Linked DNA regions of Homo sapiens: region 2 is linked to region 1. The links come from fine-mapping of genetic effects on gene expression. A gene starts in region 1. The other region holds a variant in brackets. All regions are shown on one strand. Distances are between the middles of the regions. Region 1 holds the start of DNMBP-AS1 (DNMBP antisense RNA 1). Region 2 overlaps ABCC2 (ATP binding cassette subfamily C member 2).

What was found. PIP is the estimated chance that this variant, and not a neighbour inherited with it, causes the effect. A credible set is the group of variants that fine-mapping cannot tell apart.
Region 2: its variant is the best candidate, but not a certain one, in a credible set for the expression of DNMBP-AS1 in breast (GTEx, PIP 0.70).

The regions. Positions count from the first base shown.
Region 1 is chr10:99,925,550-99,929,942 of GRCh38, forward strand. It overlaps DNMBP-AS1 (DNMBP antisense RNA 1), which reads left to right and starts at 1,656. Exons shown (of 5, transcript NR_024130.3): 1 at 1,656-1,750; 2 at 2,611-2,691. The region is part of intron 4 of DNMBP (dynamin binding protein); the gene reads right to left.
Region 2 is chr10:99,848,332-99,852,724 of GRCh38, forward strand. It overlaps ABCC2 (ATP binding cassette subfamily C member 2), which reads left to right. Exons shown (of 32, transcript NM_000392.5): 31 at 2,271-2,465; 32 at 3,171-4,263. The coding sequence ends at 3,300. Among named protein-coding and RNA genes, the nearest start is that of ABCC2, 68 kb to the left of the region's middle. RefSeq lists an enhancer at 1,535-2,215 and a silencer at 1,761-2,055. The variant G/A (reference allele first, on the strand shown) is at 1,718.

The DNA.
Region 1 (4,393 bases):
GGACTACAGGCGCCCACCAACATGCCCAGCTAATTTTTGTATTTTTGTACACAGGGGGTTTCACCATGTTGGCAAGGCTGGTCTCAAACTCCTGACCTCAAGTGATCTGCCCACCTCGGCCTCCCAAAGTGCTGGTATTTCAGGCGTGAGCCACTGTGCCTGGCCTGACCCACACTTTAGGCTGTAACTCACATTTACATAATACATTTATGTCTATACACATACACATACACAAAGTATTACATGCTTACTTTTACTACATAGAATGTAGTATGAAAGTTTTTTCTATTTACTTTTATTTTTCAGAACTGCTGATTGCAACCCCCAAACAGACTTCAAGACCCAGTCATGAGTGGCTACCCATTATTTACAAAAACATGGGATTGTGGCTATATAAGCTTCCTTCCAGTAATAACATAAGAGGCTCCTATTTTGTAGCCTTCCAACCCTGAACCTTTAGCCCTCTCTAGTTTTGTTTAGAGCCCTCTCTAGTTTCATAGTTTTCTCTGTAAGAGCTCTTCATTTAGATATCCTAATATTATTTACATGCAAAACAGGTAACGTGGAATTTGAAACACCAGGTCCCCTTCTCATCATAACCATGTATGTTATTAGCAAGTGCAAAACCCTAGTGCCCACACTTGGTCTAGTAATGGTAGAGTAGCTCACATTGTACTAATCTCCCTACTTATAACTACCAAAAACACTTTACAAGATTTATTTTTTTAACTTTTATTTACTTTTATTTTTCTAGAGATGTGGTCTCACTCTGTCACCCAGGCTGCAGTATAGTGGCATCATCATAGCTCACTATAGCCTCGACCTGCCAGGCTCAAGTGATCCTCCCACCTCAGCCTTCTGACAGATATTTTAAAAAATAACTATATGCAGGCACTGAAAAGCAATCAAAAGCAGGCAGAATTTGGAGGGGATATGACTCAAAACAAGGGAAGCAAACTAGGTAAGATGCACCTGTCTCCAGTCCTCCCCTCAGGGCACTCCCTAGTCTTTTAGGACGCCGGGAAATAAAGCAAAAGAAGAAAGCCCACATGGGGCAATCTTACTGGGCTGAGCAGCCAAAGGTTCCAGTCTGGGGGCTCTGAAGACATTAGCTATTAAGGGGGAAATCCTGGAAAACAGTAAGCCACAGAGAGGAGAGCCCCAAAATCTGTGCAGAAATGCCTCTCAATCCTTCAACTGTGCATGCAGGTGATGAGACTCCAAGGAACCCCGTGGAAAGCTGGAGGCCAGAAGAGCCCAGCAGATAGATCTTCACCAACTGTCTGGCTCTGGGAAGACACAGTTTGAAATTTGAGTCCCTCCAAGTTAGGAGGTTCAATAAACACTTCCAGTTTTCTGTTGAAACCTCCGAAGGGCCACACCTTAGGAATAAGGCCCACCTCTCAGAACTAGAGGTCCACACCCTAGGACTAAGAGCAAACCCCTAACAGACCTGCCCTAAAAAAACCTCAGATGGAGGCCTCAGGAGAATGACTGATCAGGCCGGTGAGAAAGGAAAGCCTGGGGGAAAACTTGGCTTCCTGCCTGGGGGAGAGGCTGGAGAGCAGCCACTGAACAGAGCTCTGTCTCAGATGGAGGAGGGGTGGCAAGGGGAAGACGGGAGAAGAGGAAGGGACAGGACATTCCACTTAGACAATCAAACTTGAAGTGTTTACGGTCTAGGGTAGATGTCCAACAGGGAGCAGGGACTATCAATCTGGAACTCAGAGACGAAACCATGGAGTGACAGGTGGGTGGCGCAACTTATAAAGGGGAAGGGAGGTGGGCAGATAAAACACAAAGAAATGGCCATTTATGAGCACCTACTATGTTCCGGATATGTGACTGTTTTATTTTTCTATCTCATTATGAGAGAGGTATTATCTTCACTTTACAAATTGAGAATCCGAAGCTCCAAGAGGTTAAGTAATTTTTGTCAAGTTAAGGCCATTTAGTAAATGGTGGAGCTGAGATTTGAACTCAGGGCAGACCAACTCTGATGCTTGTTCCTTTGTGTAATTACACAGTGTTCCCTTGTAATATTCAGGAAGGGCAATGGCGTGAGAGAGCTAACAAAGAACGTTAGAATGCTGAAAGATTTCTAGTAAAGACAGAATTTGTTATAGGTCAAGAAGGATATTAGGGGTACAAAAAGGGGTGAACTAAATATGAATATACTTTCAAAAGTTAAGTCCTCAAAGATAAAGAGAGTTGTAGAAATGGAAATGATATTGGGTGGAACCGAGCTGGTTTCAGGGAGATCAGAGGGCACATTACAACACTGCAGAGAGAAGGGTTTCACTCCTGTTAAGTCAAACAGAATAAACACACTTTGATTACAGTTGGGAGGCTTAATACAATAAGGAACTAAACATAGGAAACAAAGTTCACCAAAGGAACAGATGCGGGGGGAAGGGAAGAGGAACAATACAAAAACCAATATAAAGAATCACAGAATCAGACTTTTTTCTTTTTTAGCTGGAAGGAATTTAGAAGTTATCCAGTCCCTATCATTTCAGAGAGAAAATGCACCTAGGAAAAAATGACTAGCTGCTAAAAACCTCAGCCTCCCAACTAAAGCTGGGTTTGGTTTCATTTTTGTCTTTATAGGTGCAGGTTAAGAGCCTGTTAGGTCCAAAATGGTGCCCCAGAAATTCAAGTTAAGTCAAGCCCATGTTGGAAGACCACCAGGTAAACCACCGGCCATCCCAGGACCATAGCAGGCTTATCTTTTCAGTCTGTGGTGGCCCCTAGTACAAATCTAACCAGCCAGCCCATTCTGAAGGAGACCTAGACGAGAAACTTTCTACTTAAGGGGAGGGCATGAGATGGATTTTTCAGATCATTCACATTCTCTGACTAACCTTTATCCTCTGGTCACAGCCTGGACCCCAAAATTGGCCAGAACCAGAAAGGCCGTTTGGCATGAAGACAACATACAGCATACACACACACGAAAGGTTTAACAGAGAGTTCAGTAATTATAAAAATAACACAGTAGAAATAAAGCTCACTTATGAGAACTGAAGAAAAGATATAATGGCAAGAAAGAAAGAACCTCTACATGATAAAAGACTCCTAATATTCTCATTTCACAGACAACGTAGTTAAGGCTCAGTGAGATGAAGTGATTTGAAAGCTAGAAATAATCTTCTGGAATCCACAAGAGTGTCAGTACTCATCATTCACTTAAGATTCCTGAATGTCAAGGAGTGAACAATCTATAAAACAAATCAGGGCTACTCTGGGCACACTGCCTATGGGGTAGCCCTGCTCTGAAAGGAGCGGTAAAAAAAAAAAATTAAAATGAAGGCCTGGCAATGGTGGCTTACACTTGTAATCCCAGTACTTTGGGAAGCAGAGGTGGGTGGTTCGCTCAAGCCCAGGAGTTCAAGATCAGCCTGGGCAACATGGTGAAACCCTGCCCCTACAAAAAAATAAAAAAGTAGCCGGGCATGGTGGCATGTACCCATAGTCCCAGCTACTCAGGAGGCTAAAGTGGGAGGATCTCTTGAGCCCAGGAGTTTGAGGCTGCAGTGAGCCATGACCGTGCCACTGTTCTCCAGCCAGGGGGACAGAATGAGATCTTGTTTCAAAAAAATAAATAAATAAAAATAAAGTCAAGTCTTCTTTTCCATTAATGTCCAAAGAAGTGTAGAGACTGAGAGAAAAAAAAAAAAACATGCCAGGAAAATGAATTTTAGCTTGATGCCCTGATAATAAACTTGCTGCCTCGACAAGATGAACAAAAACATGAAAGTAAGAAAGGAAAGATACTTGAGATTAGAGACATCTGAAAAAACCAGGAAGCGTAAATAAAAGTTCCCATGAGAGCGCTATCCGAATGTTGCATATTTTTAGCACTGTATATATACTCTTGCTCTGTACAATGCCTTCCAAAGTAATTAAATCTCTAAGGTTGTTCTCACTCAAGGTGCACTTGATAAGAAGTTCAGGGCCCGGGCTCCTTAAGAACACAAGTGCTCCTAGTACCTGGTATAACTACCCTTTAAATCTATCTTTATGCTTTATCTTAAGAAGGCTGGCTGAGTTCATACCTTGGGTTTTCTTGCTGTTTTGCACGAACTCTGAGCGCCTCAGGGTGCTGGGTGCTGTGCGGCGGAGGCAACTATTCCTTCTCCAAGTCTCTGGGCCATTTAATTTTTTCTCTTCCTCTAAATGCCAGATGTTCTTCTCTAATGACGAGCTCTGAGGAATCCCCAAATGATGTCCTCCTTGTTCTCCCCTGGTACACTGAGTCTGCAGACCATCCAGAAGGATCCTGCTGCCCCCATGTGCCTTTGTTCTTGGTATGTCAGTGCCATTATACTCCAAATTCTCCATTTGATGGAGAGAATCTGTCCCTCTGGAATTACGAGATTTATATGCACAG
Region 2 (4,393 bases), 77 kb before region 1:
GTTTGCCTGTCCATTAATAAGTTGATCTGGCATTTTTCCTGTAACATTTTTGTTTTTCCTTCCACACACTGAAGTTCTGCCCTCAGCCAAAGCCCACTGCTCATGGACAGGTCTTGCTCCTGCCCCAGGGGCCTCAGTGGTGGTAGGCAGGGAATAGGCCGTTGGCAAGTTGAAGCTCAGGAAGGAAGGGAGGGCTCAGTAACTGATTCAGGGGCCAGCCACTCTGGCTTCACCTGGGAGCTTGTTACATGTGCAGAATCTCAGGGCGTAGACCTACTCATCAGAATCCGCACTTTAGCAAGATTCCCAGGTGATTTGTGTGCACATTACACTTGAGAAGCACTGCCTAGAGTGTTGTGATTAACTAGGCTGCAAGCTAAAATCACCCAGGAAGCTTTAAAGCTCCCAACGCCTAAACTGTAGCCCAGACCAACTGAATCGGGGACCCAGGTGATTTTAGTGTGTAGCCCCAGGGAACAAGCCCTGGTAGAGAACATCGTCAGTTTACTTTCCCTCCACAACAGATCTAGCAACTAGCAGGACTCAAGTAGGTCTTTAGGCCAGTGTAAAAGATCATTCAAACATTCAGTCAGCAAAAATGTAATAACACCGGCCGGGCGCAGTGGCTCATGCCTGTAATCCCAGCACTTTGGGAGGCCGAGGCAGCCGGATCACCTGAGGTCGGGAGCTCGAGACCAGCCTGACCAACGTGGAGACACCCCATCTCTACTAAACATACAAAATTAGTGGGGCATGGTGGCACAGGCCTGTAATCCCAGCAGTAATCCCTCAGGAGGCTGAGGCAGGAGAATCGCTTGAACCCGGGTGGCGGAGGTTGTGGTGAGCTGAGATTGCGCCATTGCACTCCAGCCTGGGAGACAAGAGCGAAACTCCGTCTCGAAAATATATGTACACCTACTGTGTGCCAGGTACTGAAAATACAGAGGCAAACAGAGACACAACCCTGACTTCCTAGCATTTACAGCATAATGAAGACAGACCTCTGTCAGTAAATGCCAGTACAGTCTGTGCTACAGAGGGTACATTTGGGATGCTATGGTAGGGTACAATGGGAGGCCTTGACATTTCTGGTTTGTAAAAACAAAAATCATGCCATCTTTCTCCTGTCCAAGCTGAGAGATGCTTAAATGGTATTACCAATGCCTTGATTTCAGACCTGAGTTTCAAACCTGGCCTGGGGGACTAAAACTTACATTTCTCTGTTGAATGATGGGTAAGTTCAGCTTGGAGAGAGCAGCTGAAAGACAAAGTGGCGCCTCAGCAACAGTCTGTTACTCTAAAGTCCAAAGTCTACGTTACACTTTGGGCCAGGCAGGAGTTTGGTACAAGCTAAGTAAATAGTTTTTCAGTGTCTCTGATCTTACATTACAGGGGAAAACTGGAAGTTCATCTTGGGTGACTTCTCATCTCCTGCAGAAATTTTCTTACAGAGAATTACAGCACTTTGGCCACCCCCTGTTTAATATGTTCCCTAATGGCCACAGCAGGAAAGAGCAATTAGCAAATTCCTGAATATTTCCTTCACATCATTTCCCAAAGCTTCTTTATGTTAGGTAAGAGGTCCAGCCTTCATTACAGGCTTTTAGCAAATTAAAGCTATTTGCATTTTAGAAGCATATTTGAATTCCACATACATTGCATCTCACACCAAGACATCACGTTCATTAGACAGCTTCATCTCTAATCAAAGCAGAAG[G/A]CCTTGAACAAATAATTAGCCTTGAGGCTAGAATTACACATTAAAATAATAAATTGATTTGCTAAGGCCACAAAGAAATGCCACTGGGGCATTCTAGTGTTGCTCCACCCTATATTAATGGCTTCAGGTCAAATGCTGCTAACGTAAACTTGGTGACACTCATGTTGTTTTGGAAATGTTGATGTCACGGCAACCAAATACAAAGCATGGTTCCTGGGCCATTGTTATCCAAACTTGTTTAAGCATAAAAATGGCCTGGGGTGCTTAGTAAAAAGGCACCTTCCTAGGCTCCTGCCCGCTCTGATTGAGCAAAGCAAGGGCCCAGAAATATGACTTTTTAATTAAGTACTTGGGGTGGGTCTTCAATTGGGAAAGTTTGAAAAACGATGCTCACAGCAGCAAGGTACAGCTAGTTGAAGAGGCCCAAACATTCCAGGGGAATTTTGGAGGGGGGGTTTTGAAAGTCTGATCTGGAACATGAAAATGGTCCCCCTGCCCTGCGTCTTTCCTTGGTCTTTAGGAGCTAACACATGGTTGCTTCTATTGGCTGCAGCATAGGCCAGAGGCAGCTGCTGTGCCTGGGCAGGGCTCTGCTTCGGAAATCCAAGATCCTGGTCCTGGATGAGGCCACTGCTGCGGTGGATCTAGAGACAGACAACCTCATTCAGACGACCATCCAAAACGAGTTCGCCCACTGCACAGTGATCACCATCGCCCACAGGCTGCACACCATCATGGACAGTGACAAGTGAGTGTAGGGGGACAGGGCTTGACACGGATGGCTTAACCCTTGCTCAACAGTAACAGTGTCAGCCGGGAAACACCTGATGGCAGAAGGTTTAACCACCACCACATTACTGATGAAGAAACTGAGACTTAGAGATGTCAAGTAATCTGGCCAAAATTTTACATCACGCAAATGAAAACGAACAAGGTTAAGGGAACTATTCATATCTTGAGGGCAAAATAGGAAACTGTGTGTTGTAACAATTAACTGGGTATGGGGAGGTGGAAGCTCAAGCCGTGAGAGGCAGATGTTGACCATAGACCTTCCTAACTGTCCTGAGCCTCAGCTGCTGCTCTGTAAAACAGCCAGAAGCTTTCTATTCCTTCCAGCTGTGTCATATTACAATCAAAAGTCAGTAATCTTAGAAAGCTGTTTGGAGATGATAGGCACCCTTTGTAAACCAATCTATCCTTAAACAATGTGCACTTCTTTTAAAAACTCATGTAAATGGACTCATACTGCCTGTATTCTTCTATTACTTGATTCTTTTGTTCAATATTATTTGCAGAATTCATCCATGTTGATGTGTGTAGCTGTGGCTCATTGATTTTCACTGCTTTGTAGCCTTGTCTGACTATACCACAACTTAGTCCTGGTTATTCTTATAAATGCCTAGACTTGAGATGCTGCTTTCTAAGACTTTTATTTCTTTCTTCCTTGTTTCAGGGTAATGGTCCTAGACAACGGGAAGATTATAGAGTGCGGCAGCCCTGAAGAACTGCTACAAATCCCTGGACCCTTTTACTTTATGGCTAAGGAAGCTGGCATTGAGAATGTGAACAGCACAAAATTCTAGCAGAAGGCCCCATGGGTTAGAAAAGGACTATAAGAATAATTTCTTATTTAATTTTATTTTTTATAAAATACAGAATACATACAAAAGTGTGTATAAAATGTACGTTTTAAAAAAGGATAAGTGAACACCCATGAACCTACTACCCAGGTTAAGAAAATAAATGTCACCAGGTACTTGAGAAACCCCTCGATTGTCTACCTCGATCGTACTTCCTTGCTACCCACCCCTCCCAGGGACAACCACTGTCCTGAATTTCACGATAATTATTCCTTTGCCTTTCATTTCTGTTTTATCACCTTTGTATGTATCTTTAAACAACATATACCCTTTTTTACTTATGTAAATGGACTGACTCATACTGCATACATCTTCTATGACTTGATTCTTTTGTTCAATATTATATCTGAGATTCATCCATGGTGATGCAAATAGGTGCATTATTTTTTTTCACTGCTCTGTAGTCTGGCATTGTATGAATACAGCACAATGTATCAGTTTTAATATTGGGGATCATTAGCATTATTCTCAGGTTTTTAAAAATTATAAGCAGTACTACTATGGACATTCTGGTCTACATCTCCTGGCACATATGTAAGAGTTTCTCTAGGGTATAACCTAGGAATGGAGGGTATGAACATGTTTACATGCACAAACTAGCTGATGCCAAACTGGTAATGCCAACTGAAAACATTGCTGTCAATCTGATGAATATGAATTGATGTATCAATGAGAATTTCATTTGCATTTCCCTAGTATCTATTGGGGATGAATATATTTTCATGTTTCTGGGGCATTTGCATTTCCACTTGTTTTTTAAATATTGTGTCTGATAATTCCAATGTCTGGATTCTTTGTTTATCTGTTGTTTCTGTTGGTTTTTACTCATGGTATTTTATTTCCTTGTATGTCTTGTGAATTTTTATTATAAGCTCGTTCTCCTTAAAACTTTATCTGTGGACATTCTTTGAGGCCTAAGTTGACCGTGAATTCTTCCTAAGGGAATTGGGAATGCTTTAGCCTGCTGCCTGGGGCATTACCCAGAACCTCTTTGAATGAAATTCTTCACTAAGGGGTTTCAAACCACAGTGCAACT